Linked DNA regions of Homo sapiens: region 2 is linked to region 1. Evidence: fine-mapped QTL for protein levels in blood plasma. Region 1 holds a variant in brackets. A gene starts in the other region. All regions are shown on their forward strands. Region 1 overlaps SLC22A4 (solute carrier family 22 member 4). Region 2 holds the start of SPINK2 (serine peptidase inhibitor Kazal type 2).

Evidence for each region. PIP is the chance, under the fine-mapping model, that this variant and not a neighbour inherited with it causes the effect. The UK Biobank Pharma Proteomics Project read protein levels with antibody pairs (Olink). The fine-mapping took linkage between variants from a reference panel, not from the people measured, so its PIPs are less certain.
Region 2: SPINK2 starts here. The variant in region 1 is fine-mapped to the plasma level of the SPINK2 protein (UK Biobank, PIP above 0.99).

The regions. Positions count from the first base shown.
Region 1 is chr5:132,294,946-132,311,229 of GRCh38, forward strand. It overlaps SLC22A4 (solute carrier family 22 member 4), which reads left to right. Exons shown (of 10, transcript NM_003059.3): 1 at 1-64. Among named protein-coding and RNA genes, the nearest start is that of SLC22A4, 8.7 kb to the left of the region's middle. The variant C/T (reference allele first, on the strand shown) is at 8,179.
Region 2 is chr4:56,820,785-56,827,746 of GRCh38, forward strand. It overlaps SPINK2 (serine peptidase inhibitor Kazal type 2), which reads right to left and starts at 917. Exons shown (of 4, transcript NM_001271718.2): 1 at 674-917. The coding sequence starts at 878. RefSeq lists a silencer at 759-1,018.

The DNA of each region.
Region 1 (16,284 bases):
GGAGAGCTGCCTGGATGGCTGGGAGTTCAGCCAGGACGTCTACCTGTCCACCGTCGTGACCGAGGTGGGTGCCAGGCCGAGACCGTTGACCCGGGAGTGCCTGACCCTCCCTCTGCGTCAGCCCCCCTTGAGACTCCCTGCGCAGTGCCCGGGTCAGCGCTCCCCTCCCCCTCAAACCTGCTGTTCATACTTCCAGCAGCGGGTGTGCACCCCAAGAAAGAATAGGACTCACGCGAGGCGCATTCCTGGGTCGTTTCTGTCCAATAAGGAGGTGATGGAGAAAGGAGTTTGTCACCAACTGTCTTTTCATTTCCGATTTTCACAACAAATGAAGTTTCCTAAGAACCTAGATGTTGCGTTGGGGGAAGCGCAGCCCCAGGCTACCCAGACGCACTGCCTGAGTCACCTTCCTGCCAGGCATGGGAGGAGGGGTGTGAGGGACCTTGTTACTGGGCAGGGCGGGGCCAAATCTTGTCTGTTCCCTGGCCACAGACTTCTGGAGGCATCAGGAGGTGTACTGCCGTACCATATACTTGTGAGGTTTGGGGTCCTTTCCTGAGGCCCCAGTTTCTCTAAGACAGCAGATGGCCTCCTGAGGCTCATTGGGTGCAAGGAAGCACAGAAGGCGAAACCCCAGCTGGAAGCCCTGGCCCTCAGGGACCTCTCTGAGCACAGGGTGAGTTGGCAGGCAGGGGCTGTAGCCCCTCAGCACCCTGCGTGGTTAGTGGCAGGTTTTCTAAGTTCCAGGAATGAGGATGCACACACACTTCTCCCGCTTTTGCTGCTTCACATCTGGTAAGGACCTGGGTCAGGATACACCTTTCTTCTGAGGAGAGCATCCTCATGGAGCTGTTGCCTGCTATTGGTCAGGCAGGTAGGATTTCCCTGCTGCTAGTCCCTCCTCTGCCTCATGCTCCTCCCAAGAAAAACCTGAGTGGCCTCTGCTAGTCCCTTATCCCTTTCCCTCAGCACGGTATAGCGGTCATCAGACATTGTGTCTGGCCTTGTGCTGAGCACTAAGGTGTGGACATCTGGTGTGTGGAGCCTACCCTCAGATGCCCATGGGGCACACTGGCTGTGTTACTGAGAAGGCTAACATTAACCCTGGTTAGCAATAGGGTTCTGGAACCCAAATTCAAGTCCTGCCTTGCTTGCTATGTGACCTGGGATAAATAAATCACCCTCTCTGTGGGACAATAGGTGGAGGAAATACTCCAAGAAGGGGTGATATGATTTTAGCTGATTCTGAAAATGTGAGCAAGACCTGTCTAGGCAAGAGTATGGGAAATTCAGGTAATGGAATTCTCATATATCGGAGTGGCTGGAACTCAAGGGATGACAGATATGACAAATGAGACTAGAAATGGCCACAAGGGCTAGTTCATAGTGGCCTTCTATGTATACTGAGGAGCTGACTTTATTCGGAGGACAGTGAGAAAATAGTAAGCATTCTAAGGCCAGGTTCGTGCTTTTGGAAAGAGCTCACTCTAGCTGCTATGATAAACAAGAAGACCAGTGAGGAAGTTTTGAAACTCTCCTCTGCAAGAGAATGGTGGCCAGCCAGGCGTGGTGGTTGTCGAATCTGTGGCACCTGTGGGAAGTGGGCTCAGCCCAGGGACTGCCTTTGGATCCCCCAGCATTGGCACCATACCTACCCTGGGCCCTAAGGTGGCCATGCTTCTCTGGATTTGCTTCCCTAGCAGGGGCTCTAGTGCTTGCCCACTCCCTGCCCACAGCATGGCCTGGGAGCAGCTGAGACTGGGGGCCAGCTCATCCCGCGTCGATTCCTGGAAGTGTTATCAGTGCCTGTTATGGAGGCTGGACCCATGAGTGGCAGCCTTCCCTGGCAGCTGGGCTGACCTGTCTGCTTTTCCATTGCTCGCTGGTTTTGTTCACTGTAGGGCGTGAGGGGTGAGTAGCTGCTGGCCTCCAAGTCCATAGCTACTCATGTTGTACGCTGTTCACAGGGACCTCTAAGGATGTACATCATCACACATTCACACACATGCACCAGGATTTGCTTTTTTTGGCAGCTTTTCCCTTCCTGGCTTCCTTTTTGAGTGGTGGAAGTAAAATAAAAAGCAACTAGGGGCTGGGCACAGTGGCTCACGCCTGTAATCCCAGTACTTTGAGAGGCTGAGGCGGGCAGATTACTTGAGGTCAGGAGTTTGAGACCAGCCTGGCCAACATGGTGAAACCCCGTCTCTACTAAAAATACAAAAATTAGCTGGGAGTGGTGGTGCACCCCTGTAGTCCCAGCTACTCGGGAGGCTAAGGCAGGAGAATCACTTCAACCTGGGAGGCGGAGGTTGCAGTGAGCTGAGATCACACCACAGCACTCCAGCCTGGGTGACAGAGCCAGACTGTGTCTCAAAACAAACAAACAAACAACAACAACAACAAAAAACTGGGCTCTGGTGGTTGGGAGGAGGAGGGAAGGAAGCAAGTACCAGGGTAAGCAGGATGGATGGATGGCTCTCCCCCAGAGGGGCGGCAGCACACAGAGTTCTGGAGTCAGACTCAGTAGAGGGCCAGTTTTGACTCCACTGCCAACCACCTGGCTGACTCCAGGCAGGTTACATCACTGATGAAAGCCTCAGTTTCCTTGTCTATAAATTGGGGGTACAAGCGATGAAAAGAGGCTCAACATCACTAATCACTAGGGAAATGCAAATGAAAATCATAAGGAGGTACCACTTTGTACCCTTAAAAATAGTTACTACAAAAAGAAAAAAAAAACACCCAGAAATCCACTTTGGGAGGCCGAGGCAGGAGGATTGCTAGGGGGCAGGAGTTCAAGACAGCACTGGGCAACATAGTAAGACCCCATCTCTACAAAAAATAAATAAAAAATTAGCCAGGCATGAGGGCATGTGACTGTAGTTCCAGCTTCTCAGGAGGCTGGGGCAGGAGGATCACTTGAGCCCAAGAGTTTGAGGTTGCAGTGAGCTATGACCATATCTCTGCACTCCAGCCTGGGTGACAGGGCAAGACCCCACCTCTAAAAAAGTGTTGTTGTTGTTTTTAAACACAGAAAATAACAAGTGTTAGTGAGGATGTAGAGAAATTGAAACCCTTGTTCATTCCTAGTGGGAGTGTAAAATGGTGCAGCCACTATGGAAAATAATGTGGTGGTCCCTAAAAAAATTAAAAATAGAATCACCATATGATCCAGCAATACTAATTCTGGATATATGTCTAAAATAATTGAAACAGGGTTTCAAAGAGATATTTGTACACCATGTCTATGGTAGCATTATTCACAATAGTCAAAAGGTGAAAGCAACCCAAGTGTCCTTCCACAGACAAATGGATAAACATAATGTGGTATATGCGTACAATGGACGATTATTCAGCTTTAAAAAGGAAGGACATGCTACAACGTGGATAAACCTTGAGGAGACTACGCTTAGTGAAATAAGCCAGTCACAAGACAAATTATTTTCTGATTTCACTACAGGAGTAGTCACACTCACAGAAGCAGAAAGTAAATGGTGGTTGCCAGGGACTGGAAGAAGGAAGGAGTAGGGAGTCGTTGTTTCATGGGTATAGAGTTTCAGTTTTGTAAGATGAAAGTAGTGTTGGAGATTGATTGCACAACAGTGTGAACGCTTCTGAACTGTACACTTAAAAATGGCTAAGATGGTAAACTGTATATTATGTGTACTTTATCTCAGTTTTCAAAATGGGGATAATAAGAGAAGCCACCTTATCTGAGTTGTTGGGAGGACTCAGTGAGATAATGCCCCATGCCCCATCCGGTGGTGGCCAGCACAGAGTGTGGCACCAGCAAAGAGTGTGGCACCAGCAAATGGGCTTCCTAGGTGGTGGTGAGGAGTGGTAAAGGCAGAAGCTCAGCACCTTCTTTGCCTTCTCCACTGGCTGGGGACAGTGGGCATGGTGGGAGCTGTTCTAAAGTCCAGGTTGTGGCCTGTGTAATAGGTGATGGGACTTGCTGGAGGCTGAGCCCCTCTCCCCACAGTGGCAGTTCCAAGCCTCAGAGAATAGAACACAAGTCCAAACCCATACTGACTTGGCCAGTGCCAGTGTACAGGGCCAAGCCCAGGGCCCCTGAGAAGGTTCTCTGCATCCCAGTTGGCACAACACAGGTAGTGGGACTGTCCTCAGATTGTGTCTTTGCCTTATACTGCCGTGCCAGGATCTCCCAATGGGCATATCTTTGGGGACAGACAAGTCTGCCTGAACTGCCCCCCAACACCTCTTCACAGGAGGACAGGGTTAGCCAGGAACCAAGGATGGCATGCTGTGCTGTAGAAATGCCTTTCATAGTATGCCAGGAGGTAGCAATAAGGTGTCTGAGTTGGGGTTTGCGTGAGTGCATTCGTCTGTGTGTGTACATGTGTATAAGGTAGTTTCCTTCTTCAGGGGTTGATTGTGAGGTCCAAGTTTTTCAACCTGTGCAGTTACTAAGAGTCAAATTATTTTTCGTTTTATTTTATTTTATTTTATTTTATTTTATTTTATTTTTTTGAGATGGAGTTTCTTTCTTCGTTCTTGTTGCCCAGGGTGGAGGAGTGCAATGGTGCCATCTCGGCTCACTGCAACCTCTGCCTCCTTGGTTCAAGCGATTCTCCTGCCTCAGCCTCCCGAGTAGCTGGGATTACAGGGGCCTGCTACCATGCCCGGCTAGTTTTTTGTTTGTTTGTTTGTTTGTTTTTTGTATTTTTAGTAGAGACAGGGTTTCACCATGTTGGCCAGGCTGGTCTCGAACTCCTGACCTAAGGTGATCCACCTGCCTCGGCCTCCCAAAGTGTTGGGATTACAGGCGTGAGCCACCGCGCCTGGCGATTATTTTTTAACTTTATTTTGAAATAACTTTTGATTTAGAGAGAAGTTTGAAAATAGTACAGAGATTTCACATATACCCTTCATCTAGCTTTCTCTGATGTTAACAATTTAAATACGCGTTATGCATTTATCCAAACCAGGAAATTAACATTGGTTACAATAGTAATAACTGAACTACAGACTTTGTTTGGATTTCACCAGTTTTTCTACTACTGCCCTTTTTCTATCGTAGGATCCCATCCAAAATCCCATGTTGTATTTAGTTGTCATGTCTCAGTCTCCAATCTGTGATTGTTCCTTAGTCTTTCCTTATCTTTCATGATCTTGACATTTTTATGAGTATTTTGATGAATGCTCCTCAGTTTGGGTTGGCATGATTTTTCTCACAATTAGATTGCGTTATGCACTTTTTGGTAATGATACCTTAGAAGTGATGCATTCTCTGGGCATCATACCAGTGGGTACATGATGCTGATGTGTCTTATTACTGGTGATGTTAACCTTGATCATTTGTCAAGTTGGTGTCTGTGGAATTTCTCTGCTGTAAAGGTACTATTTTTTCCTCTGTCACTAATAAATATCTTAAGGGAGGTTCTTCGAGATTATACAAAATCCTGTGTCTCCTCAAATTTTTATTCACTGATTTTAGCATTCATCACTAGGTCTTGACTGAAACAATTATTACTGCAGTTTGCCTAGTGATGATTTTGCATTTTCTGATTCCTTCAACATTTATTAATTGGAATTCTTCTGAGAAGAAGAGCTTCCCCTCCACATCTATTTATTAATGTATGCAATTGTTAACTTATATCAGTACAGGTTCATACATACTTATTTTATTTCATCAGTTATAAACTAATGCTATCCATCTTTATTTTGTTGCTCCAGTTATTCTAGCTCAAACCAAGTTATTTTTCACTTTAAGGATAGAGAATGTAGATATCCAGGGTAAGGGCCTTTATCTGTCTCTGCAGTCAGGGCTAGAGGAGTCTGTGTTTACCCCTGCGGGAGGAGTGCCAGTCACAGCTCGTTGCTAAGTTTTCCATCAGGCAGCAGTTGAGCAGGAACGCAAGCAGGGACTGGTGGGACCTGGGTTGGGACTGAAGCTTCTGTTGGGGAAGGAAGTGCCCCAAGCAACCCAGAGTGTCTGATGCTGGGGTCCTCATCCCTGAGACCTACTGCAGGGGTCAGATCTCAGTCTCCATGGGCATGGCCCTTCATATATAGCCCTCAGGGCCAAGACCTCAGAGAGAAGAGGCCCTGCGTGTGAGGAAACCCGGCAGCCTCCTGCCCTGAGGCTAAAGGAGCAGGAAGGGCAACAAATGCTCTGCTCTGGAGAGGGCCTAAGTTCATCTGCAGGGCCACAGGGCAAGCAGCAGAGGCAATCCTGGCTCGTGGCCAGGGGCTAAGCATGGGCTGGCCTTTGCCTCAAGCATGTCCTCTTCTCCCATGGAGCATCATTAGGGTCTTGACCTTCCCATCAGTCCATGGGCTGGGAAAACTGAGGCAGTCACCTCTAAGCTGGATACCACTTCTGCCAGGTCTTGTGCTCCAGAGGCCCTGGGGGAACCTTGTGTGTTAAGGACCAGCCTTCTTTGCAGGCCACCAGTGATCTAAGACAGGGCTGCTGCCACACCGTAGATCCTCCTGTCCTCTTCTGCAGCTGGGCTGCCTCCTCTAGGAACCCTAGTGGAGCTGCTGGTAGCCCACTGGTAGTGGAGTTGATGGAGCCTCCAGCAAAGGGCCTGGACCTCTGGTGGCACTAGCCTTGTGCTTTCCTGGGAACTGGGGTCAGGGCCTGAACAGCAGTAGGACTTACTGATTCCCCACCCATAACCCAGAGGCGAGCCAGGTTATGTGGCGAAGGATAAGGCCTCTTCCCCTGCTAACGGGGAACTTCTGGGAGGCACTGAGAGCAGCAAGCAAGGGAATAATGAAACAGACTAACCCTCACATGCGGCTGCCACTATGTGGGACTTCACATAGCGGCTCTCAAGGATGCACCTCCCCTGGGGTCTGGGTAGGCCCCGACAAAAGGGGAAAACCTTCCGTGATAGGCAGGTTTGTGGAGTTTCTATCAGGCCTGCAGGCTGCCCTGGGACATTGCTCACGGGTGTGGAGACTGTCAAGATAGCCTGAATATTAACCAAGTTGATCATCCAAGTCCATACTCAGACCTGCCCTCTGGCAGATTCCAAAGGGGATAAGGTGTGGGGGCCTCTGGCTCCAGCCAGCCCGGCGAGACTTCTATTTCCAGTCAATGCTTCAGAAAGTAGATCTTGCCAGAGAGCACATAGAGGAGACTCAGGGGCTTCCCCTTGCTCTGGCCTGAATGTGCTTCCCTGTTTGTTTATCAGCTGCCTCACCCCAAACTGTTTGCCTCTCTGCTGTGTTCCTCTGACAACAGCCACCAGGATCTCAGAATATGCTTTTGTTCAGAGGCTGCTTCACCTGCACCTCCTGCCAAGTTTCTGGATAAACAGACTTTGTCCATCCCTCTTGGTGGGCAGCAGAACTCTCAGACAGAGTCCAAGGTGGCATTTTGACAAAAACAAGGCTTTGACAGGACTGGTCAGGGGGAGCTGCAGGTACCTTGGGCCTCTAGAAGGACTGTAATTCCTCCCTTATGGCAGGCTGCATTCAATTTAGGTGTAAGACTAATACAGGTGTGCCTTGTTTTCTAAAGCTGTGTTGTGGTTTTATGCATGTCTCTGGAGTCCAAAAGAAAGGCAAGGATCCCCATTTGGAATGAAGAAGGTGTGGAGAGAATGGACGTTCTGGGGAAAGGCTGGAATGACCCACATGCTCTAGCAAGAAGCACAGACAGTCCAAGGCTGGTGGCTCCTGCTCAGCATTTGCAAGACTGGAGGGCAGGTTCAGGCGGCAACTTCCAGAGCTTCCCCTCAGTGCTTGGTGACTGGCACAGACACGATGCCATTTGCTCATGTTCCCCTAATACAGACTGGTAGAGCTGTGGTGGATCCATTGTCAGGATGCAAGGGGCACAGCCAGGTCCCTGAGTGACCCTTCTCCTTCCCACAGCCCCTCCACTCCCATCCCTATCTTCCCACTCACACTCACTGGTTCTTCTGCTTTGGTTTAGCCTCCAATGATCACAGAACTCATCAGTGAGGCTTTTCCATCTGTGGTAGCTTTTCTAATATAAAGAAAGAAAGATACTGAGAACATTTTAAGGCTTAGCAGCCTTCTGGCTTAGTTGTTTGTAAATGAAAATATGAGTAGAAGAATTAAACAGCCAAAAAGATAACCCACAAAATGGGAGAAAATATTGACAAATCATATATCTGATAAAGGATTTGTATCTAGAATATAAAAATAACTCTGATAACTCAGCAATAAAAAGACAAC[C/T]TGATTTAAAAATGGATAAAATCATTTGCCCATTTTGGAGAATAGATGTTTTGCCAAAGAAATACAAATCAATTAGCACATGAAAAGATTCTGAGACTTCGAAGTTAGCAGTGTGAGGAGCGCCAGCGCCATAGACCAGCTCCTCAGTGAAACAGCCATAACTGGTGAAAATACACACACACACACACACATTTAGAGTCTCTGGAAGTTGTCCTAAGGGCATATATTTATTCAAGAAAGTCGACTATACCTTGGCAAGAACAGTGAAGTCTATGATATTTGAGTCATAACTCCTTCAGCCCTCCCCTTCCCCTTCCTCCCAGCACAAGAAAAATGGAAGTTCCACTCTAGGTGGGTATGGCCAAGAAAATACTGTTCTCTCTCCCATCAGCTTCCAAGGAAGGGCTACAGCAGCCCACCAAGAGGGACAACCAATGCCCATCCCCCACCCATCCCTGTATTCTCTTAGCTCCAAACCACAGAAGGTAAAATCCTCGTGAGTGCAACCAGGGGATCATAGGTTCCCATCCTCCACCCACCGCCTATTCATATAGTAGAGACTCTACTCCAGGTGCCACAAGTTGAGAATATTAGAGCCTTGATTGCCCTTATCCCAGCTCATTCATACGGCAGAGATTCCACACCAAGCTCCCACTTCCACTCAGTGTCTGACTCATAAAGTAGGGGTGTCATTCTGAGATAAATGGGCCGCTTTCCCTGCCTACCTCTCTACAACAGGAGCTCAGATATTTTGCCCAGCGGGGAGAGATAATCCAAAAGAACAGAGTTCTAAAGCTGTCCCCACAGGAACGAACTTTATTTGAAATAGAGTGTGTGAAAGGACAGCCTAAGATTGCTCTCAAGAACAATGGAGAATTTAGTGGTAAGCAACTAAAAGGATTCTGGTAACTCCATTAGAGCAACAAATGAACCCATAATGCAGCTAGTTTACCAGGAAAAAACAGAAAACAAACAAACAAACAAAACAAGAAAGAGACAGCTAAGAGCAGCCCTTCTGGAGTCAAAACAAACCTTATAGATTTGCCTCAAAAACTACCACTGCAAAGAGGCTTGACGTCAACTGGATTAGACTGTGGGACAATATATGCCCCCAGGGCATTATTGAAATGAATGAGGCAACTGGCTAGCAATTAGTGAGGCTAACAGCTGGGTGTGATACCAGCAGACACAGACAGCTTAATAGAAAGATCAGACTGGCGTGGTGGCTCATGCCTGTAATCCTAGCACTTTGGGAGGCCAAGGCGGGTGGATCACCTGAGGCCGGGAGTTTGAGACCAGCCTGGCTAATGTGGGGAAACCCCATCTCTACTAAAAATACAAAAATTAGCTGGGCATGGTGGCAGGTCCCTGTAATCCCAGCTACTCAGGAGGCCGAGGCAGGAGAATTGCTGGAACCCAGGAGGTGGAGGTTGCAGTGAGCCGAGATCATGCCACTGTACTCTAGCTTGGGCAACAGAGTGAGACTTCATCTCGGAAAAGAAGAAGAAGAAAGATCAGGGAAATGGGGGTGGAAGAATGTGACAGTACCTAATTTCTACAATATATTATCTAAAATGTCCAGTTTTTAACCAGAAATTACGAGATATGCAGAGAAACAGAAAAATATGACCTATACATGGGGGGAAAACGTGGGCAACAGTAACTGCCTGAGAGGGTCCACATGTCAGATTTTAACAGACTTTAAGGCATAAGGCAGCCATTATAAATATGTTCAAAGAATGAAAGGAAGTCATGCTTTTAAAAGTATGATGACAATATTGCATCAAATAGAGAATAGCAATAAAGAGAGAAAAATTACATTTATATTTTTAAAAGCTGAGCCAGACATGATGGCATGTGCCTATAGTCCCAGTTACTCAGGAGGCTGAGGTAGGAGGATTGCTTAAGCCCAGGAGTTCAACCCCAGCCTGGGCAACAGAAAGAGACCTTGTCTCTTAAACAAACAAAACAACTGAATAGAACTTCTGGAGTAAAAGTATACAATAATTGAAATTTAAAAGTAACTCAAGGGCCTTAACAGAAGATTTGAACAGGCAAAAGAAAGAATCAGCAAACTTGAAGATAGAGGATTGGAAATTATGCAATCCAAAGAACAGAGAGGAAAAAGGGAATAAAGAAAATGTATAGAGTCTCAGAGAAATGGGGAACACCATTAAACATAGCAATATATGCATAATAGAATTACTAGGAGAGGAGAGAGAGAGAAAAGGGCAGAAAAAATGCTCAAAGAAATAATGACTGAAAACTTCCCAAATTTGGTGGAAAACATTAATCTACACCTTTCAGAAGCTCAACAAACTCCAAATAGAATGATCACAAAGAGATCCACACCCTGATATATCATGGTAAAACTGCTTAAATAAAAAAAGAGACAAAAACGAAGGGAAAATTTTGAAAGCAGCAAATATATGACTAGGTACATACAAGAGAACTCCAATAAGATCAACGTTTGACTTCTCATTAGAAACCATAAAGGACAGAAGGCAGTGGAGTGGCATATTCTAAGTGCTGAAGGAAAAAAGAAACTGTCAACCAAGAATCATGCATCCAACAAAACTGTCTTTCAAAACTGAGATAAAGAAATTCAAAAATACACAAAACTTGAGAGAATTGTTTCTAGCAGTGATGTCTTACAAGAAATATTAAAGGAGGCACTTCAGAAATAAATTTAACCAAAAATTTGCAAAATGTATACTTTAAAAACTATAAAATGTCATTGAAAGAAATTCCAGAAGGCCTTAACAAGTGGAAAAGCTTCCCATGTTCTGTTCATGGAGCAGAAGACTTATTGTTAGTATGGCAGTGCTCTCCAAATTGATCAATAGATTCAATGCAAAAGATGTTCAACATTAGTTATTAGAGAAATGCAATCAAAACCACAATGAGATACCTCTTTACACCCACTACAATGACTAAAATTAAAGACACACAATAACAAGTACTGGTAGGAATGTGGAGAAATTGAAACCCTCATTCATTGCTGTTGGGATTGTAAAATGGTGTAGCCACTTTGGAAAGCAGATTAGGAGTTCTGCAAAAGGTTGAGTATATACTTACCGTATGACCCAACAATTTCACTACTATGTATATACCCCAAAGAAATGAAAACATGTACACACAAAATGTTGTACATGAATGTTCACAGCAGCATTATTCATAGTAGCCAAAAAGTGGAAACAACCCAACTACTTATCAACTGATGAACAGATCATTGAAAACGTGGTAGACCCAAACCGTGAAATATATATATATATATATATATATATATATATATATATATATATATATATATATATATAGTTGTTGTTGTTGTTGTTGTTGAGATGGAGTCTCACTTTGTTGCCCAGGCTGGAGTGCAGTGGTGTGATCTCAGCTCACTGCAACCTCCACCTCCAGGCTCAAGCAACTCTCCTGCCTCAGTCTCCCAAGTAGCTGGGATTACAGGCACGTGCCACCGTGCCCAGCTAATTTTTGCATTTTTAGTAGAGACAGGGTTTCACCATGTTACCCAGGCTGGTCTTGAACTCCTGACCTCAGGTGACCCACCCGCCTCGGCCTCCCAAAGTGCTGGGATTACAGGTGTGACCCACCGCACCCAGCCCAAACCATGGCATATTATTAAACCATAAAAAGTAATGAAGTGCTGATACACTGCACAATGACATGGATGGACTTAGAAAAGGAGCTAAGTATAAGAAGCCAGTCATAAAACACTATATATTGTATGATTCCATTTATATGAAATGTCCAGAATAGGCAAATTCATAGAGACAGAAAGTAGATTAGTGGTTTCCAGGGGCTAGAGGAAGTAGCGAATGAGGAGTGACTGCTAACAGGTATGGGTTTTCTTTCAAGGGTGATGAAAATTCTAAAATCAGATCATTGCTGATGGTTGCTGAAGTCTGTGAATATACTAAAAATGATTGATTTGTATACTTTAAAAGAGTAAATGTTATGGTGTATAAATCATATCTCAATAAAGTTGTTACAAAAAAGTAATTAACTAGCCATGTTTGTTTTTGTTTTTCTTTGTTTTGTTTTTTCATATTGTCAAGGAATTCCCAGCTTTAAGTCACAATCAAGTGACAAAGATAGAACTGGGGTGGATGTATAGTCCATTATTAACTACTACTTCTTACTTTTCTCTAGAATAAAGGATAACTATGAGAGGATACTATAGAAATCAATCTTTTATTCTTAAAAGGACCATTGCTAATTTTTCACTCACAGTCATCTCTGGGATTGAATTCCATTTATCAAATCCCTTTTATAAGAGCTTTTCTAGCTTTTAGTAATGGACTGGAATAATTTTTATTTCTTAGAATTTCTTTCTCTTAGTCAGATTTAAGTGTAACCTGCTTTGCTTATTCGTCCATGTGTTCCAAGTCATGATTTTGCTCAGGACAAATAAAATGCTCTACTAGTATGAGCCTGGTAGAAAGGGAACTACCATTTAATGAGGCCTGTAATGTGTCAGACGCTCCACTGATATTTCCCATCCAATGCACACAACAAACCTAGGAGCAGGTATTATTGTCATCTTTTTGAAGGTGAAGAAGCAGGCTAATAGAGGTGAATGGATTGCCCAACATCACACAGTCCAAAGTTGCAGACCCCGAGAAAGCCTGTGTTCTTTGCTGAACACCAGGCTACCTTCCAGCGTTCTCAGTTCCGTGCAGGTCAGACGGGGTTCACTTATCTTTATGGTCCTTTATAGCTCTGGTAAAAACTAAAACTGCCAGACTTTGGCTACTTGGAGAGTTAGTTCAAGGCTGAGGGTGATTTTCCAAGTGCAATGCGTGATACTCCTCAGCCCAAGAACCACATTTTCCAGGCTGATTTTCTATGACTCCTAATTAATTGTTCAATATTCATTCAACAATTTGTTAAGCACCCACTGTGTGCCTAGCACTGTGCAAACACTAGTCATCTAAAATATGATTATACGGATTATTCAGGTTTTAGAACTCTGTCCTTCTGCTGGAGGATGGTGAGGAGGGGGTGCCTCTTTCCTCTCTAGCCAAAGAGCAAGGGTGAAGTGGCCCAGAACAGCGCCCACCCCACCCAGGGCTGCTGGCCTCATGCATGCACATGTGCACATCTGTCCTGTAAAGTATGCTTGACCTTGAGCTTTGTGAGGGCAGGGACCATGTCTTTCTTGTGCCCTACACAGAGCCTGGCCTGGAGCAGGTAGGTGCTGAATGTCAGTTGAATCAATGATTAAGCAATTTTTTTTTTTTTTTTTTTTTTTTTTTTTTTTTTTTTACCAATTCACTAGGAGAACTTGGGCTGGTTGCTTTATTGCTCTGTGCCTTCATTTCCTCATTTGTAAAACAAGGATAAGAGTACCCATCTCACATGCCAACCCTGAGATCCCCTGAGATAATACACGGCACTCAGTGAGCACTCCACACACTGTTACTGTCTTTCCCATTACTCCCTTTACTATAGGGAGCCATGGGAAGCGGCACATCCTTCTATGCCAAGAGTGACCTCCTATCCCCTATTACCTTGTCACCTGGATTTTTGTTTCTTAAATTAGAGCTGAAGGCCATGCGGCCCAGCTAAATGGAGCTCACTCTGCTCTGTTGTGAGAACCTTGGTCTGGGACCCTGCTGATGGGACAGACATAGTAACCCCGGGAGGCCCCATCAGAGGGGCAGGGAGAGGGGAGGTAAGCTATGTTTCAGAAATGTTAGGATTTGACTTGAAAGCACACCCCCAAAGCAATGCCAGCCAGCTCCTTACCAGGACATCTGCCATTAGCCTCTGAGCTGGTCATGTGTATGTATGTGTGTGTGCATGTATGTACAAACATGTGCAGGGACCCACAGGGACAGGTCTGTCCCATCAAGGAAAACACTGTCTCCCACTGGGCCCGCCATGTCACTGTTAACCACAGGGAGGTTTTGTGGCCCTGGCTAGCGGAGACCCAAGACATATCCCTCAAACCTGAAGGGCCCAGGGGCAGGCAGGGCCGGTTTCCTAAGAAAAGCCTTTTCTAAAGGACCCCTCTTAGGACTGGCAGCTGATTTACTGGACTCTAGCCCTTCGCTCCAGGTAGAACTTCATCTGCCAATCCTGTGTCCTAATACCAGGCCCCTCACAGCTTTCCAAAAAGACACTTGCGGCACCATAACTCCCCAAAGGAGAGCCCAGCCCTAGAATCAACCATGGGCAGCCATGCAGTCTAGCTGCCTTCCCCTGCTGGTTGTAAGCAGGGTCTCCAAAGGCAGATGGCACCCCTCATGGGCTTGGGGCAAACGGCCACTGCGTGTGCATGGCTCTTCCTGTGCTGCATGATGCTGACAGGGCTTCTTGGGCCCCTCTTCAGGGAGGGAATGGGACCGAAAGCCATCGATGCAGAGCCTACAGGAAGGAGAATGATGGGAGATGGCCCTCACCTCACCCCCCTTCCCAGTGTCCCCATTCAGAACTCCTGCATCTGCTTCATTTCCTGGAGGCCAGGTTTGATCCCCTGCCAGGGCCAGCTTCATGGGCATGCAACTGTGCAGTCACACAGAGCGCCACACTTGGTTTCAATGCTTTGCCATTGCTGTATTGAAATTCTTAATAATTTTTGACCAAGGAGTTCTGCATTTTCAGTTTGCCCTGGACCTTGCAAATTAAGTAGCCAGTTCCCAGTCCTACCCTTTGCTCATGCAATGCCTGGCTCCACATCTAACAGCCTTCCATTCCTTTCTATCTCTAAATCCTATCTATCCTGCCCTAAGGCAAAGTCCAGACAGAAAAATATTTGACAGACTACAAAGGAGAGCACATTATATTTGAAAGAGCTTTTCTGCTCAACTGCAGATGGAATGATGATGGTTGGCATGTTAATGCCTCTACCAATCTTGAGTTCTTCTTGGCTCAGTCTGAGGCTAAAGGCTGTGATGGAGGCCTTCTACTCCTAGTCCTGGGTAATTGTCTCCTGGTATCACATTCCTTGAAGAAGTGTAGGGCATCATATTTAATAAGCTCATTTTGTCCTGCCTTAGGGAGTATAGGTCCAAAGCAGGACACTGGTACAAGATTGGGTTCTGAGGCCCAAGTAGGTATCTATCATGCTCATTTACTTGCTATGACTTCAGACAAATCCCATTCTCACAGTCTCAGTTTAATCTTCTGCAAAATGGGTCACACCACATCATGAGGCTTTGGGCCTCAATTGCTCATCTCTCTAAGTCAGAAGCAGAACCCAAGCTTTTATCTGAAGCTTTGGACAATTATTTTTGGAGGGAGATGGCCATGAATGCAGGCACACGTCCTGTTTACCACTTCCGGTCTATGGACTGGCAGAACACATTAATCTGGCCATACAGTTTTAGAGGATTCATTTCCCTTTCTCCTGAAGCCCATGCAAGAGCCCCAGGCGAGGCAATCCTGCTCTGGGTACAGTCTGAGATTTATCCTTGGATTGTGCCTGAGCAGCAGAGCGCTAACTTCCTGGCCCGAGTTGTTTTTCTTCTGCAGAGCTGTGTTGGGCGTTGCCTGTGGCCAGCATTTGAGCACTGTGACAGGCGGCCTCATGAATCTTGCTATTGTCTCTAGGACAGGACTATTCTCGAGGACATTATCCTCAGCATCACAGAGTGGCTCCTTTGTGGAAGAAGTACATAGGAGACACTTCTTTCGGATCTCAGTATTCAGAACAACTGTGCTTCTGCGAATAAGCAGACTACTTCGGATACTGTAACCCTTCTGAGAGCTGAGCTGCTGGGATACGCAGAGCCAGTTTTGGAGCCCCGTCTGGCAAGCAGGCAGGCCCGTGGACAGGATAGTCTAGGGTCAGTCTTACCCCAGGCTTGGTTTTTGCAACTTCCCTCCTCTTTATTTTCCATTTTCCCCAATTCCCTTAGCTTTTTGTTTTACATTTTTCTCTTGTGTGTGTCTTTATAAACACCTCTGTCTGCTGCAGAATAAGGTGTGATATAAATATGTGAGTTTGTGCTTAAATCCACCACACTTTCAAGGGAGTTGTGAGGATTCAGAAGGAATTGTTTGGCGAATGCAGTAAAAGCAGCCCCATCCAAGATGGAGCTAGGGCTGGGTGGGAGGCAGGGGTCTTTCCTCCAGACTGGA
Region 2 (6,962 bases), not on the chromosome of region 1:
TAAAATCCAGTTTGGGATTTATCCAGGCCACATCTTCTATTTTCCCCTCTAATGCCTACCTTCTTTAAACTGTCCCCATCCCACTTCCCCCAGAAAGGATATTCAGTTTTTTATGGCACCTCTCCCCAAAAGCACATAGAAATAACATTTGGTTCTGTTCCCATTAGGGTTGGTTGAGAAAGGACTTTGAAGCTATGGAATAAAAGTCGCGCTAGCGCACTGCAGCTTCAATTCCTGGTCTCAAGCGAGCCTCCCGCCTCAACCTCCGGAGTAACTGGGACTACCGGCCCAAGCCACTACACCTGGCCAAGGAAGTAACCCTTAATTAATAGTTCATGATGTTATTTTCCTTTACAACTCGGGGTAACAAATACAAAATTTAATATAAGATGTGAGCATTTTAACTCCATTTTAAGAGAGGTGTCCAGTGTGGTTGGACTAAAGCCCCTTTCTCGTAAGCATCCACAATTCCTCATTCCTGCACATCTCCTCCCTTGGGACCATACATAAAAACTCAACTCCTCATCTTGGGCACCTGAAAATCTACTTTAACAGAGAAAGCGCTCTAGATGGCAGGTGTCCTTAGAGCTGGGAGCGAAGCCCAAGCAAGAACTAAAGAGGGTGGCTGACTCCACAAAGCCACCCCCACAACCCCCAGTTCGCGTTCCTCCACCTGGCAGGTCCTCTGGGGAACCGCCAGTAACGGGCGCGCGGGTACCGTCGCCGAGGCCGCCCGGAGCAGGGCAGGGTCCGCCGCCGGTCTGACTCCCAAACCCGCTTTTCTCCGGAGGTCCCCGCTCGCCAGGACCGCTCCGAGCGCTACCTGCGAAGGTAACTGCCAGGAGCAGCAGCGCCAAGCGCAGCACCGACAGCGCCATCCTCCTCCCGCGCCGGCTGTCTTGCCCCTGCGGTCTGTTACCTGCGCCACTCGCAGGGAGCGCTCGTGCGACGGGGCGCGGGGAGGGCGGGGGAAGGGGCGGGGCGAGAATGGGAGGAAAAGCAGCGGTAGGTGGCGAGGGAAGAGGGGCGGCGGGAAGAGGAGCGGCGGGAAGAGGAGCCGTGAAGGGTCGGGGGAGAACCGGAAAGGGCTGGGAAGGAGAAAGGTAGAAGGACGGGGGAGGGGGCCATGGGGAAGGAGGGGCGAGGGAGATAGAGGAAGGGGCAGTTGTTCCCCAACACCTTCCCCTCCCCCCAAGGAGACGAAGGGGAAGACCTCTCCCTCCGACATACAAGAACCTGTGACAGTCCTAGGGGGACCCTTGTGGAGCTCTTGGGAGCTCTGTCAATCAACACCTATTTCTTAAGCATGTACTAAGTCCCAGATAGTGTTTCGTTGCTGAAGACACAGCCCTGACCTCGACAAAGGAGGTCCTTGCTCTCAGGAAGCGTTCTGCCTTTCCCTCTTTTAATATATTTTTTAACTATTTGAGTTGACACATAATGATTGTACATATTTATGGGGGTACATAGTGATATTTGGATACATACAATGTGTAGTGATCAAAATAGGATAATTAGCATATTCATCACCTCAAACATTTATCATTACTTTGTGTTGAGAACATTCAAAATCCTCTCATCTAGCTACTTGAAAATACATAATAAATTATTATTATTATTTAAATTTCAGACAGGGTCTCGCTCTTTTACCCAGGCTGGAGTGCAGTGGCACGATCTCAGCTCACTGCAACCTCCACCTCCCAGGTTCCAGTGATCCTCCCACCTCAGCCTCCCTCCCAAGTAGCTGGGACCACAGATATATGCCACCATGCCAAGCTAATTTTTGCATTTTTTGTAGAGAGGGGTTCTCACCATGTTGCCCAGGCTACTCTCAAACTCCTGGGCTCAAGCAATCCGCCCACCTTGGCCTCCCAAAGTGCTGGGATTACAGGCTTGAGCCACCGTGCTCGACCTTTATAATATATTATTGTTAATTGTCGGCACCCTACAATGCTATGAAACACTAGCACTTATCCTTTCTACCTAGCTGTAATTTTGTATACTTTAACCAACCTCTCCCTATCCCCCTATCCTTCCCAGCCTCTAGTAACTACTGTTCTACTCATTACTTCTGTGAGAAATAATTTTTGCCAAAGAGGCTGAGCAAGTTAGTGCATTAAGGCCAGGCGTGGTGGCTCACGCCTCTAATCCCAGCACTTTGGGAGGCTGAGCCTGGTGGATCACTTGAGCTCAAGAGTTTGAGAGGAGCCTGGGCAACAGGGCAAAACCCCGTCTCTAAAAAAAGTACAAAAATTAGCCAGGTGTGGCCATTGAGCTGAGATTGAGCTACTGCGCTCCAGCCTCAGTGGCAAAATGAGACCATGTCAAAAAAATTTGGCCAGGCACGGTGGTTCATGCCCGTAATCCCAGCACTTTGCGAGGCTGAGGCAAGTAGATCACTTGAGGCCAGGAGTTTGAGACCAGCCTGGCCAACATGGCAAGACCCCATCTCTACTAAAAATACAAAAATTAGCTGTGCATGGTGGTGCGCACCTGTAGTCCCAGCTACCTGGGAGGCTGAGGCATGAGAATTGCTTAAACCCAAGAGGCAGAGGTTGCAGTGAGCCGAGATGGTGCCACTGCACTCCAGCCTGGGCGACAGAGTAAGACTCTGTCAAAAAAAAAAAAAAGTGCATTAGCAGATCCACTTTTTTTTTTTTCTGCTTCTTATGCCTGTGTGTCAAATGATTCTGTGACATGTTGCCTTATCAGTAAGGGTCCAGTCTGGAAAACACAAGGTTTACTAGGTATTTCACCAGAGATAATTTAGTATAAGGAATTGGCTAATCCAGTAGGGATAACTGAAAAAAGCAGAAAGGGAAAACGAGGTAACACAGAGATAAAGCCTTTAGGAAGTAGGCATCATGCCTCGATCTAGGGGAACAAACGGATTAGGTTGGGATTCTCAGAACTAGAAATTTGGAGGAGAGGTCCTGGAAAGCTGGGACTCAGACCCATGGGAAGGGGGTGTTGCTTGGATATGCAGGTGGCTCTAAGAGTGTGTGGAAAAGCTGAAGACTGGAGCCAGGTGCAGTGGCTCACACCTGTAATCCCAGCACTTTGGGAGGTTGAGGTGGGTGGGTCACTTGAGGTCGGGAGTTCGAGACCAGCCTGGCCAACATGGTGAAACCTTGTCTCTACTAAAAAATATAAAACTTAGCTGGACATGGTGCCATACTCCTGTAATCCCAGGTTCATGAGAATCTCTTGAACCTAGGAGGTGGAGGTTGTGGTGAGCGAAGCACACCACTGCACTCCAGCCTGGGCAACAGAGTGAAACTCTGTCTCAAAAAAAAAAAAAAAAATGCTGGAGACTGGAGCCAGCTGATTCTATCAGAGTGATGAAGAGTCATTGCTGTGGCACTGCTGAAAGAAACAGCCAGCAGGCAGGAGCCAGTCCCTTCTCCCTCCTCCTGCCTTCCGGTGTCCCCCTGACAGACCCTATGGGCATAACCTTCTGGAAGCCAGCTGAAAAAGCAGAAATGAGGTCTGCTGAGACCTGGCACCACATAGCAGAGTGTAGAAGGGGGTTGTAGAGCTGATGGAGAATCATCTTATGACTGGCATGTTCCCATGCCCACCCTTGACCTTAGCAACCTCAAAGGCTGGAACAAGAAGACACTGTGCAGTTTTTAACTCCACTTGGCACCACACATGGCTGAGTTCTGGCTGGAATCCTGTCTGAGGCCAAGGGGTAAATTTGAAATGAGTGTTAGTACTTCTCTAAGTCACATCACATTCAGTTCTTTGAATAACAGTCATGAAATGGTCATGGGTCATTTTGCTGAAGATTCTTATCAAGGATTGATAAAATATAATTTATATATAAAGCTTTTCTCAACTGTGCTGGATGTCTGTTACCAAATGACATGTGCACTTGCTTACAAACACCTTTGATGCTCTGGGAACACAAATCTGACCCAGACTCAGGGGCAATGCTCAGAGGTGTGTGAGTAGGAATTTCAGCTTCAAAAGAAAAGCCATTTACCCCTCAAGATAGATTTTTTATAAATTTATGTGTGTGGATACAGCTGCCTTTAGGTTATTTTGTTTCAAAGAGTTGACACTGACTGGCAGGGTGGCTCATGCCTGTAATCCCAGCACTTTGGGAGGCAGAGGCGGGCAGATTGTTTGAGCCCAGGAGTTGGAGACCAACCTGGGCAACATGACAAAACCCTGTCTCTAAAAAAATACAAAAATTAGCCTGGTGTGGTGGCGCGCACCTGTAGTCCCAGCTACTTAGGAGGCTGAGGTGGGAGGATCACCTGAGCCTGGGAGGTGGAGGCTGCAGTGAGCCATGATCACACCACTGCATTTCAGCCTGGGTGACAGAGCGAGACTCCGTCTCAAAAAAAAAAAAAAAATGTTGATAATTATACCTTAGAAATATTTTCTATCATGGTGCTTTTCACATGTTGTCTCAGCATTTGTGAGCCAAGAACAAGGGTCAAAAAACATTTTCTGTAAAGGGCCAGATAGTAAATACCATTGACTTCTTGTCACAACTAAACTCTGCCATTGCAGTGCAAAAGGAGACATAGACTATAACTCAATGAATGGGCATAACTGTATTCTTTTTTTTTTTTTTTTTGAGAGAAGATCTTGCTGTGTCACCCAGGCTGGAGTACAGTGGCGCAATCTCAGCTCACTGCAGCCTCAACCTCCTGGGCTCAAGCGATCCTCCCACCTCAGCCCCACAAGTAGCTAGGAATACAAGCATCCGCCACCACACCCAGCTAATATTCTTGTATTTTTTGTAGAGGTAGGTGATATGGTTTGGCTGTGTCCCCACTTAAATCTCAACTTGAATTCTATCTCCCGGATTTCCCAAGTGTTGCGGGAGGGACCCAGGGGGATAATTGAATCATGGGGGCCAGTCTTTCCCATGCCATTCTCATGATAGTGAATAAGTCCAGGAGATCTGATGGGTTTATCAGGAGTTTCCATTTTTGCTTCCTCCTCATTTTTTCTCTTGCTCCTGCCATGTAAGAAGGGCCTTTCACCTCCCACCATGATTGTGAGGCCTCCCCAGCCATGTGGAACTGTAAGTCCAATTAAACCCTTTTTTCTTCCCAGTCTCATGTATGTCTTTATCAGCAGCATGAAAATGGACTAATACAGTAAATTGGTACCAGGAGAGTGGGGCGTTGCTGAAAAGATACCAAAAATGTGGAAGTGAATTTGGAACTGGGTAACAGGCAGAAGTTGGAACAGTTTGGAGGGCTCAGAAGAAGACAGGAAAATGTGGGAAAGTTTGGAACTTCCTAGAGACTTGCTGAATGGCTTTGCCCAAAATGCTGATAGTGATAAGGAGAATAAGGTCCAGGCTGAGGTGGTCTAAGATGGAGATGAGGAACTTGTTGGGAACTAGAGTAAAGGTGACTCTTGTTATGTTTTAGCAAAGAGACTGGTGGCATTTTGCCCCTGCCCTAGAGATTTGTGGAACTTTGAACCTGAGAAAGATGATTTAGGATATCTGGCTGAAGAAATTTCTAAGCAGCAAAGCATTCAAGGGGTGACTTGGGTACTGTTAAAGGTGTTCAGTTTTATAAGGGAAGCAGAGCATAAAAGTTTGGAAAATTTGTAGCCTGATTATGTGATAGAAAAGAAAAGCCCGGACAGGCACAGTGGCTCACACTTGTAATCCCAGCACTTCGGGAGGCTGAGGTGGGCTGATAACCTGAGGTCAGGAGTTTGAGATCAGCCTGGCCAACATGGTGAAACCCTGTCTCTACTAAAAGTACAAAAATTAGCCAAACGTGGCGGTGGGCACCTGTAATCCCATCTACTCCGGAGGCTGAGGCAGGAGAATCGCTTGAAGCCGGGAGGCAGAGGTTGTGGTGAGCAGAGATGATGGCGCCATTGCACTCCAGCCTGGGCGGCAAGAGTGAAAGAAACTCTGTCTCAAAAAAAAAAAAAAGAAAGAAAGAAAAGCTGGGCGTGGTGGCTCATGCCTGTAATCCCAGCACTTTAGGAGGCCAAGGCGGGCGGATCACCTGAGGTCAGGAGTTCGAGACCAGCCTCAACATGGAGAAACCCCGTCTCTACTAAAAATACAAAATTATCCAGGCATGATGGTGCATGCCTGTAATCCCAGCTACTTGGGAGGCTGAGGCAGGAGAATTGCTTGAACTTGGGAGGCGGAGGTTGCAGTGAGCCGAGATCACACCATTGTACTCCAGCCTGGGCAACAAGAGGGAAACTCCGTCTCAAAAAAAAAAAGAAAAAAAAAAGGGCCAGGTGCAGTGGCTCACGCCTGTAATCCCAACACTTTGGGAGGCCAAGTTGGGTGGATCACATGAGGTCAGGAGTTTGAGACCAGCCGGACCAAGATGGTGAAACCCTGTCTACTAAAAATACAAAATTAGCCAGGTGTGGTGGTGCATACCTGTAATCCCAGCTTACTCAGGAGGCTGAGGCAGTAGAATCGCTTGAACCCGGGAAGCAGGGGTCGCAGTAAACCGAGATCACTCCATTGCACTCTAGCCTGGGCAAGAAGAGCAAGACTCTGTCTCAAAAAAAAAAAAAAAAAAAAAAAAGAAAGAAAGAAAGAAAGAAAAAGAGAAACCCATTTTCTGGGGGGAAATTCAAGCCGGCTGCTGAAATTTGTATGAGTAGCAAGGACCCTAATGTTAATCCCCAAGACCATGGGGAAAATGTCTCCAGGACATGTCAGAGACTTTCACTGCAGCTCCTCTCATTACAGGACTGGAGGCCCAGGAGGAAAAAGTGGTTTTGTGGGTGGGGCCCAGGGTCCCTGTGCTGTGTGCATCCTAGGGACTTGGTGCCCTGTGTCCTAGCTGCTCCAGCCATGGGTGAAAAGGGCCAACATACAGCTCAGGCTGTGGCTTTAGAGGGTGGAAGCCACAAGTCTTGGTAGCTTCCATATGGTGTTGAGCCTGCAGGTGCACAGAAGTCAGGAATTGAGGCTTGGGAACCTCCGCCTAGATTTCAGAAGATGA